Linked DNA regions of Homo sapiens. The protein of the gene in region 1 purifies or fractionates together with the protein of each later gene. This does not show direct contact. Each region holds a gene or a part of one and is shown on either strand. Other genes may lie near its edges.

The links. Proteins that work in one complex are often made in the same cells at the same time.
Region 2: the proteins of TOB2 (region 1) and CHAF1A purify together in Homo sapiens (affinity purification with western blotting, with the first as the bait; one study listed by BioGRID). This does not show direct contact.

The regions. Positions count from the first base shown.
Region 1 is NC_000022.11:41,439,831-41,445,045, forward strand, and holds part of TOB2 (protein Tob2), read right to left. Parts: exon of another isoform or gene 4,282-5,215; intron 1-4,281. UniProt on the Homo sapiens protein: Anti-proliferative protein inhibits cell cycle progression from the G0/G1 to S phases.
Region 2 is NC_000019.10:4,408,123-4,413,337, forward strand, and holds part of CHAF1A (chromatin assembly factor 1 subunit A), read left to right. Parts: intron 1-780; coding exon 781-1,637; intron 1,638-2,382; exon of another isoform or gene 2,383-2,401; intron 2,402-5,215. UniProt on the Homo sapiens protein: Acts as a component of the histone chaperone complex chromatin assembly factor 1 (CAF-1), which assembles histone octamers onto DNA during replication and repair.

The sequences.
Region 1 (5,215 bases):
GGGACTAAATCCTCAGAAAAAGATTTCTGGGGTGAATGTATCAGAGAAGACTCACTGGGTCAATCTGGAGCAGCATGACAGTGGCTGAATCTAGTTAACCCTCATTTCAGTTCTGAGGAACAGAGAAGGTCACATGGGAGTCAGCAGAGGTACCACAACTATGCCTCTCCCAAACCCTCCACAAGAACACTCAGGACTCAGAATACCCTGGTTTCCCTCTTTTCCCAGCCTCCAACACAGACTTCATCTCTAAGTTTCTTCAAATGTCTATTTTTTTCTTTTTCTTTCTTTTTTTTTTTTTTTTTGAGACGGAGTCTTGCTCTGTCGCCCAGGCTGGAGTGCAATGGCACGGTCTCGGCTCACTGCAACCTCTGCCTCCCCGGTTCAAGCGATTCTCCTGCCTCAGTCTCCCAAGTAGCTGGGATTACAGGCGTGCACCACCACTCCTGGCTAATTTTTTTTTTTTTCAGTAGAGACGGGGTTTCCCCATGTTGGCCAGGATGGTCTCGAACTGCTGACTTCGTGATCCACCCACCTCAGCCTCCCAAAGTGCTGGGATTACAGGCATGAGCCACCGCGCCTGGCCTCTTTTTCTTTTTTTGAGACAGGGTCTCACTCTGTCACCCAAGCTAGGGTGCAGGATCACAGCTCACTGCAGCCTCCACCTCCCTGGGCTCAGGTGATCCTCCCACTTCAGCCTCCAAGTAGCTGGGACTACAGGCATGTACCACCACACCTGGCTTTTTTTTTTTTTTTTTGACATGAAGTCTCTGTCACCCAGGCTGGAATGCAGTGGCGTGATCTCGACTCACTGCAACCTCTGCCTCCTACGTTCAAACAATTCTCCCACCTCAGCCTACTGAGTAGCTGGAATTACAGGCATGCACCACCACACCTGGCTAATTTTTGTATTTTTAGTACACACGGGGTTTCATCACGTTGGCCAGGCTGCTCTTGAACTCCTGGCCTCAAGTGATCCACCTGCTTCAACCTCCCAAAGTGGTAGGTTTACAGGCCTGAGCCACCATGTCCAGCCTCATTTTTTTTTGTATTTTTATGTAGAGATGGGGTTTTGCCATGTCACCCAGGCTGTTCTTGAACTCCTACGCTCAAGTGATCCACGTGCCTCAGCCTCAAATGTCTATTAATGATCAATACAGACCAATTTCAGGGCTTTTTTGGGTATAAAAAGTAAGGATAGTAGAGGCCGGGCACGGTGACTCACGCCTGTAATCCCAGCACTTTGGGAGGCCGTGGCGAGTGGATCACAAGGTCAGGAGATTGAGACCATCCTGGCTAACACGGTGAAACCCCATCTCTATAAAAATACAAAAATTATCCAGGCGTGGTGGCACGCAGCTGTAGTCCCAGCTACTCGGGAGGCTGAGGCAGGAGAATCGCTTGAACCCAGGAGGCGGAGGTTGCAATGAGCTGAGATCGTGCCATTGCACTCTAGCCTGGGTGACAGAGCAAGACTCTACCTCAAAAAAAAAAAAAAGTAAGAATAGTAGAAAGAATAAAGGGCTTTCTGTTTATGAGGATCAGGCTCATCAGCAGATACAAAACTACCCACCAGAACCATGAGCCTTCTCTCAGGAACAGAGGTCTGAAGGGCCACATAGTCCATAGAGGTGTCCAACAAGGAGCAGACTAAAAAGTTGTGAAGAGCCAGGTGTGGTGGCTCACACCTGTAATCCCAGCACTTCGGGAGGCCAAGGCAGGTGGATCACTTGAGGCCAGGAATTCAAGACCAGCCTGGCCAACGTGGCGAAACCCCATCTCTACTAAAAACACAAAAATTAGCCGGGCATTGTGGCTCATGCCTGTAATCCCAGCACTTTGCGAGGCTGAGGCGGGTGGATCACAAGGTCAGGAGTCCGAGACCAGCCTGACCAACATGGTGAAACCCCGTCTCTACTAAAAATAAAAAATTAGCCGGGTGTGGTGGCACACGCCTGTAACCTCAGCTACTCAGGAGGCTGAGGCAGGAGAATTGCTTGAACCCAGGAGGCGGAGGTTGCAGTGAGCCAAGATTGCGCCACTGCACTCCAGCCTGGGCAAGAGTGATTTTTCTCAAAAAAAAAAAAAAGAAAAGAAAAAACCCCATAAAAATTAGCCCAGCATGATTGCGGGTGCCTATAATCCCACTACTCCGTAGGCTGAGGCAAGAGAATCGCTTGAACCTGGGAGGCAGAGTTTGCAGTAAGCCGAGATCATGCCACTGGACTCCAGTCTGAATGACAAAGTGAGAGAAATTCTGCCTCAAAAAAAAAAAAAAAAGAAAAAAAAGTTGTGAGGAAAGTTGATACTGGTTCCCTAGAATGGAACCTGTTGTTAAAGACAGTGTTTCCAAAGTATTTTTGAAATCTAAAACAGACTGAAGTCAACATATGATACTTCTCCCAAGGTACTGCATGGCCTCTTAAAATGCACCTCTTGGTATTTCCACTGAGAGCAAAGGGTTTCTACACCTTTCTAAGCCTCCTCAAACCTGGCTGCATAATTGCCTTCCAAGTTAACTACTCCTGAACAGTTCGGCCTCAAAATGAGAGCATTTTAAATGCAGGCCAAAGTCATTGGGAAATAAGCCTCCCACCCCAAAATACAATAGAACCACTGTCATCAGCCCTGCCTAGCTAACCATTTTCTGCAGCATAAGCAACTAAAGCTGCACACCAATTTATACCTCAGTGATGTTGCCGCACAAATAAGGAAGCATATAATGCCACCTTTGCCTCTTTAATTAGAGAACAGGCTGGACCAGATGGCTGTGGGGTGGAACCTTACAAAAATGATGGACAACCAGAATGAGATTTTCTGCTCTATCAGCTCAGGCTCTAATTTTGACTGCAAGAAGCTTATGGAGCAGAGGATTAAAGCACTGGTGCTGGCTTGTCTTTAGCTAAAGATAGGAGTGGCCATTCAGAGGAGTTTGTTCATTTTTTAAAAAGCTATGAACAAATTCTAGAGCTTATATATAAAATATTTATGGAAGTATGGTAAGATTAGAAAGCTTAGAAATAACTACCTGTCAATAAAGGGAACAAGTAAAGGGATTCGCTTAAGTGGCTGCAGAGGACACTAAGATCTTTTCTAACCCCAGTGTAGGCACAAACGGCGAAAAAGGGAGCAAGAAGAATAAAAATGGTGAGGTGTTTAACAATAGCAAAATCTCCCTTTTGTCAACCTATTAAAAAGGGCAAATATGAGAGCAAAATTCTGTCCAATTTCACTAAGAATTTTATCCTCACTTGTTTACTTCCAGCAGCAAAGTTAAACCTGGATTCTGATCCCTTGTGCTGACTTGTGTTTTAAAGAGCAGGTGCCTAGGAGAAAGACGACGGGGGAAGAAGTGGGGCGTGAAGCTCAAAAGAAGCCTCAGTCAGTGCAGATTCCAGAGAGAACTTCTGATAAAAATGTGAGGAAGGTGTGTGTGTGTGTCACACGCGCGCGCATGTGTCTGCCTGCTCTAATGTCAGAAGCGAAGGAAGATTTTTTTCCCCCCCTCGAGACAGTCTTGCTCTGTAGCCCAGAGCTGGAGTGCAATGGCGCCATCTTGGCTCACTGCAACCTCCGCCTCCTGGGTTCAACCAATTCTCCCGCCTCAGCCTCCCGAGTAGCTGGGATTATAGGCACGCGGGACCACGCCCGGCTAATTTTTGTATTTTTAGTAGAGACGGGGCTTCACCATGTTGGCCAGGCTGGTCTCGAAATCTTGACCTCGTGATCCGCTCGCCTCCGCCTCCCAAAGTGTTGGGATTACAGGCGTGAGTCACTGCCTAGCCAGAAGATTTTTTTTTTTTTTTTTTTGAGATGGAGTTTCGGTTTTGTTGCCCAGGCTGGAGTGCAATGGCGCGATCTCGGCTCACCGCAACCTCCGCCTCCCAGGTTCAAGCGATTCTCCTGCCTCAGCCTCCCGAGTAACTGGGATTACAGGAATGCGCCACCACGCCCGGCTAATTTTGTATTTTTAGCAGAGACGGGGTTTCTCCAAGTTGGTCAGGCTAGTCTCGAACTCCCGACCTCAGGTTATCCGCTGCCCGCCTCAGCCTCCCAAAGTGCTGGGATTACAGGCGTGAGCCACCGCACCCGGCCGGAAGGTTTTTCAGAAAGAAAATTCTGTTTCAAAGAGGAAAAGGAGGGATAATGGTGATGGAATCCACTGAGCCCCAAACCCAAAAAGATACTCAGACACCTCTAAGCCTTAAATGTGCAAACTGTCCTACAATGACGGACTACAGGACTCAACTAAGTGTGGAGGGGCCAGCAGGTGTCACAGACCGGGTGGATGCGAGTGCCCTGCCGCTGTCCGGGGAGTGAGAGCCAAACGCAGGCAGCTCCTCTCCTTGGTGAGACACGGGATCCGCCCCAACTCGCTGGTCCCAGAGGCAGCGGCCCAGACAGGCGGGTGTGTATTGAAAGGCTTCCAGGACTGGTGCTGACTGACTGCAACACCGCGCCCAGTCTCTCATCATCTCCCCCTAGACACAGACCGGTCAACCTTAGGTCTGACAACAAGGCCCCTTTCGGCTATGAAGACCCTTTCTAGGGCACTCCATGTTCCTCAGGAGCTAGGAAAACTCGACTCAACCCAAACGTAGGCGGAGAGGCGGGCGGTGAGGGCCCGCTCTGCACTCTGGGAATTGTAGTCCTCAAACACCTCCGGACCAGGCGATAGCAGGAGTGACCTACTTTCCCTGCACACTACACTTCCCTGAGCACTTTGCGAAGGCCCAACTGGCCGCAATACGCATGCCCGGTAAGGGGAGCCGACCGAGGGTCGAAGAGCCCAGGAAAAGTTTCCGATGCACATGCGCGCTGAGGCGGGTCGGCGCCCCCCTCCCATCGCCTAATACATTTCATGTAGATTCTACCCAAAAGGCCTACTCCCCGTATTGTATGGCCCCACCACATCCTCTAGGCTTTACGAGAGCCTAACTTTCCCACCTTTCCCTTCATCGCCTCCCATTACTGATGAAACTAGGATCTGCTTCTAATGAGTTTTTTCTGGGTGAAGGGGGTGGGCTGGCTTAGATAAGGTCACGACCCCCTTCCCCCCACCCAATCTGAATTCCAGGGCCTGGGCGGTCCGTGTGGGGTTGCTGGATGGACGGTGGATTCAAAGGGAAACGGATCTTTTTCACTTAATGCCTAGCGGACTCGGCTCCAGCACCCCAAACAGCCAGGAAAGGAAAGGCAGGAATCAAACCCAGTT
Region 2 (5,215 bases), on another chromosome or scaffold:
CAGCCTCCCGAAGTGCTGGGATTATAGATGTAAGTCAGTGTACCTGGCTTCAGATAGCCCCTGCCCCGTCTTTTTTTTTTTTTTTTCTTTTGAGAGTTTCGCTCAGGTCGCCCAGGCTGGAGTGCAGTGGCGTGATCTCAGCTCACTGCAGGCTCCGCCCCCCGGGTTCACACCATTCTCCTGCCTCAGTCTCCCGAGTAGCTGGGAATGCAGGCGCCCGCCACCTCACCCGGCTAATTTTTTGTACTTTTAGTAGAGACGGGGTTTCACCGTGTTAGCCAGGATGGTCTCGATCTCCTGACCTTGTGATCCGCCTGCCTTGGCCTCCCGCACCCGGCCTTTTTTTTTTTTTTTTTTTTTTTTTTTTTTGAGAGGGAGTCTGTCTCTGTCGCCCAGGCTACAGTGCAGTGTTGGGATCTCAGCTCACTTCAACCTCTGCCTCCCAGGTTCAAGCGATTCTCCTACCTCAGCCTCCTCAGTAACTGGTATTACAGGCGTGTGCCACCATGGCCTGGCTAATTTTTGTAGTTTTAGAAAAGACGGGGTTTCACCATTTTGGTCTGGCTGGTCTCAAACTCCTGACCTTGTGATCTGCTTGCCTCGGCCTCCCCAAAGTGCTGGGATTACAGGCATGAGCCACCACACCCGGCCCAGATAGTCCCTTTTTAAACTTTAAAATTATCTCCCACCCCCATGTCCCAACAAATCAGTAATTTTCAAGCTCATGAGTGGTTGTAACTTTAAACGTTCACTAGAGATGGCTTTCTGTCTTTGTTTCAGCCCGTCTGCCGTTTAAGCGCCTGAATCTTGTCCCAAAGGGGAAAGCCGATGACATGTCAGACGATCAGGGTACTTCTGTGCAAAGTAAAAGCCCCGATTTAGAGGCCTCTTTGGACACCTTGGAAAACAACTGTCATGTGGGTTCTGACATAGACTTTAGACCGAAACTTGTCAACGGGAAGGGTCCCTTAGATAACTTTTTAAGAAATAGAATCGAAACCAGTATTGGCCAGAGCACAGTCATCATTGATTTGACAGAGGACTCGAATGAGCAGCCAGACAGTCTTGTGGACCACAATAAACTAAATTCTGAAGCCTCTCCCTCCAGGGAGGCAATAAATGGCCAGCGAGAAGACACTGGGGATCAGCAGGGGTTGTTGAAGGCCATTCAGAACGACAAGTTGGCATTTCCTGGAGAGACCCTTTCAGACATTCCTTGCAAAACAGAGGAGGAGGGTGTTGGCTGTGGAGGTGCAGGGAGGAGAGGCGACTCCCAGGAATGTTCGCCACGGAGCTGCCCGGAGCTGACGAGTGGCCCGAGAATGTGCCCCAGAAAGGAGCAGGACAGTTGGAGTGAAGCTGGGGGCATCCTGTTCAAAGGGAAGGTGCCTATGGTGGTCTTGCAGGACATCTTGGCTGTGAGACCACCGCAAATCAAGTCCCTTCCAGCCACACCCCAAGGCAAGAACATGACCCCTGAGAGTGAGGTGCTGGAATCTTTCCCCGAAGAAGACTCTGTACTCAGCCATTCGTCCCTGAGCTCTCCCTCTTCCACCAGCTCGCCCGAGGGGCCGCCTGCTCCCCCAAAGCAGCACAGCAGTACCAGTCCCTTCCCCACCTCCACGCCCCTCCGCAGAGTGAGTATCTCCCATGGAGTCCCTGCACATCAGTGCTCACGGATCTCAGAGCGCTGTCAGTCTCCACTGGGTCACCCAGGTGTTTTGTGGCAGAGTGAGCGGGGCCACGGGCTGGGTCCTGGGACTCGACGTGGAGTTCTTCCTGGTATCAAAACTCACAGTGTTCAGTTCTGCATTCGTTGTGATGCCCCTGGGACTTAATTCATCAACAGTGTACCTGGTGTACTGTGTGAATAACACCCTGCTGTTTTGCCTTCGTTGTTCACATCTAATCAGTGATAGCTTAGCCGTTTTAGGGAATTAGGATCTGAGCTGGTGCTGTAACCCCTCACTTCAGATTCGAGGTCCAGCTTTCTCTGTGCCCTTCCTGTCTAAGCATAGAAATGTAGGGACGGGGCTGCAAAGACACTGAGCACTGAAGTGGCAGTGAGACGGCAGGAAGCATGACTTGGGGAATTCTGTAGGGTCAGCACAGCCAGCCATCTTAAAAACCTTACCTGGGGCCAGGCACAGTGGCTCATGCCTGTCATCCCAGCACTTTGAGAGGCCGAGGTGGGAGGATCGCTTGAAGATCACTTCAAAACCAACCTGGGCAACATAGACACCATCTCTATGAAAAAAAATTACTTTTTTTTTTTTTTTTGACAGAGTCACTCTATCACCCAGGCTGGAGTTCAGTGGCGTGATCTCGGCTCACTGCAACCTCCACCTCCCAGGTTCAAGCGATTCTCCTGCCTCAGCATCCCTGATAGCTGGGATTACAGGTGCGCACCACCACACTTGGCTAATTTTTATATTTTTAGTAGAGACAGGGTTTCACTATCTTGGCCAGGCTGGTCTTGAATTTCTGACCTCAAGTAATCTGCCCGTCTTGGCCTCCCAAAGTGCTGGAATTATAGGCATGAGCCACTGCACCCAGCCCTGCAAAAAAATTTTTAAAAGTTATCCAGGCATGGTGGCACATGCCTGTAGTCCCAGCCACCTGGGAAACTGAGGCAGGAGGATCACTTGAGCTGAGGAGTTGGAGGCCGCAGCGAGCTATGATCACACTGCCGCGCTCCAGCCTGGGTGACAGAGCGAGACCCCATCTGGAACCATTTTTAAGGACCCCATAAGGGGGACTTTTGCATGGTCTGTCTCTGTTATTGATTTTTTATTAGCACAATGGTGTCCTTAAGGTCTTAGGGACCAAACTGATAAAATCAGTCACGAGTCCCACGGTGTTTAGTGGTGTCTTTTGATTTTATAATTTTTTACTTTTTATCTTAAGTATGTAGAACCAGAAGAGACAGTGCCTTTTTATGTTTTTGGTTTTGTAGCACTTTTGTTTGTTCATGTTGGGTCTTTATATGAGAGTAGTAGATCCTGAGATGGGTCATTTAATCTGTACCTGTAAGCAGGTACAGTAGACCACCTGGACCATAAACCACCAACCTTGTTCGCTTTCGGGATTTTGAGCTCTAAGGAACCATTTATTTATTTATTTTTGAGACAGAGTCTTGCTCTGTCACCCAGGCTGGAGTACAATGGCGCCATCTCAGCTCACTGCAACCTCCGCCTCTTGGGTTCAAGCAATTCTCCTGCCTCACCCTCTCAAGTAGCTGGGATTAGAGGCACCCGCCACCATGCCCAGCTAATTTTTGTATTTTTAGTAGAGACGGGGTTTTGCCATGATGGCCAGACTGATTTCAAACTCCTGACCTCAGGTAATCCACCCGCCTTGGCCTCCCAAGTTTCTGGGATTATAGGCGTGAGCCACTGTGCTTGGCCAAGAGCATTTATTTTTCTGAATGACTTCATTTCTTGTCTTTCACCTGAGAAGATGAAAAAGGAAAAAATGGCTTCCTCTTTAGGTTTATGAAATGTTGTAAAAATGGTGCAAATCTTTTTTTTTTTTTTTTTTTTTGAGACATGGTCTCACCCTGTCGCCCAGGCTGGAGGGCAATGGCATGGTCTCAGCCTACTGCAGCCTCCACCTTCTAGGTTCAAGCGATTTTCCTGCGTCAGCCTCTTGAGTAGCTGGGATTACAGGTGCCCACCACCACGCCTGGCTAATTTTTGTATCTTTTCAGTAGAGACGGGTTTCACCATGTTGGCCAGGCTGGCCTCAAACTTCTGACCTCAGGTGATCCGCTTGCCTCGGCCTCCCAAAGTGCTGGGATTACAGGCATGAGCCACCGCCCCAGTCTTCTACTTTGTTTTATATGTGCTGGTTTGTTATATAGGTAAACTCTTGTCGTGGGGGTTTGTTGTACAGATTATTTTATCACTCAGGTACTAAGCCTAGTACCCTCTTCTAAGTTACTAAATGTGCCAGACTGGCATGTACACATTTCAGCTTCTACCTAATCCACCACTCAATCTCCCAAAATCAGAGTTGAAGTCTCTCCCCATTGGGCATCCTGTAGTGTACATTCGATCACTTGAATTTCTTCCAGGCTGCTGCCGCTTTGCAAAATTTCGTCCTGTGATGTGAGCCATTTAGCAAGAACGGGACACATGGCTGGGCGCGGTGGCTCACACCTGCAATCCCAGCACTTTGGGACGCCGAGGCGGGTGGATCACCTAAGGTCGAGAGTTCAAGACCAGGCTGACCATTATGGAGAAACCCCGTCTCTACTAAAAATACAGAAAATTAGCTGGGTATGGTGACGCTTGCCTGTAATCCCAGCTACGCCGGAGGCTGAGGCGGGAGAACCGCTTGAACCCAGGAGGCAGAGGTTGCGGTGGCCTGAGATCGTGCCATTGCACTCCAGCCTGGGTAACAAGAACAAAACTCCGTCTCAAGAAAAAAAAAAAGGACAGGACACAAGCACATGTTTCCATTAAGTTTGTTTCCATGTCCACAGCTTAGTCTGCAAACTGGGAAGTCCCCTCGTTGGGCATCATGGTGGCACAATCCTGCCCGCTTTCTAAAACAACTGAGCACATGAACCCAGTGTGCAACATTTAGGAAACCCTGCATTTAGGACGCTAGATCTTGTTCTGAACACAGACTCGAGGTTTTGGGATGCACTTGAAGGCAATATTATCCCAACTTTTCAGATAATTTACAAGTGGTAAAGGCTTCAGGCTGGCCCAGAGCCTATGGCAGAAAGCGGCCACAACCACCCGCAGAGGGCCTGTCAGTCACCGAAGCTATGAGGGAAGCGATTATCGGGAGGCCTCCTCATGCCCTGATGGCAGGGATCCCTGAGATCCCAGCTGAGAGAGACTCCATCCCCAACCCCTACTTTATCTCCGAACCTTTAAGGAGTCCTGCATTTCTGGTTTGGTTGGTTTGCTTGCTTCATAGTTGGTACCTAACTCTTTTTTATTTTTTATTTTTTTTGAGGCGGAATCTCACTCTTTTGCCCAGGTTGGAGTGCAATGGCGTGATCTTGGCTCCTGCAACCGCTGCCTCCTGGGTTCAAGCAATTCTCCTGTCTCAACCTCCCAAGTAGCTGGGATTACAGGCACGCGCCACCAGGCCCAGCTAATTTTTGTATTTTTAGTGGAGATGGGGTTTCACCGTGTTGGACAGGCTGGTCTCGAACTCCTGACCTCGTGATCCGCCCGCCTCGGCCTCCCAAAGTGCT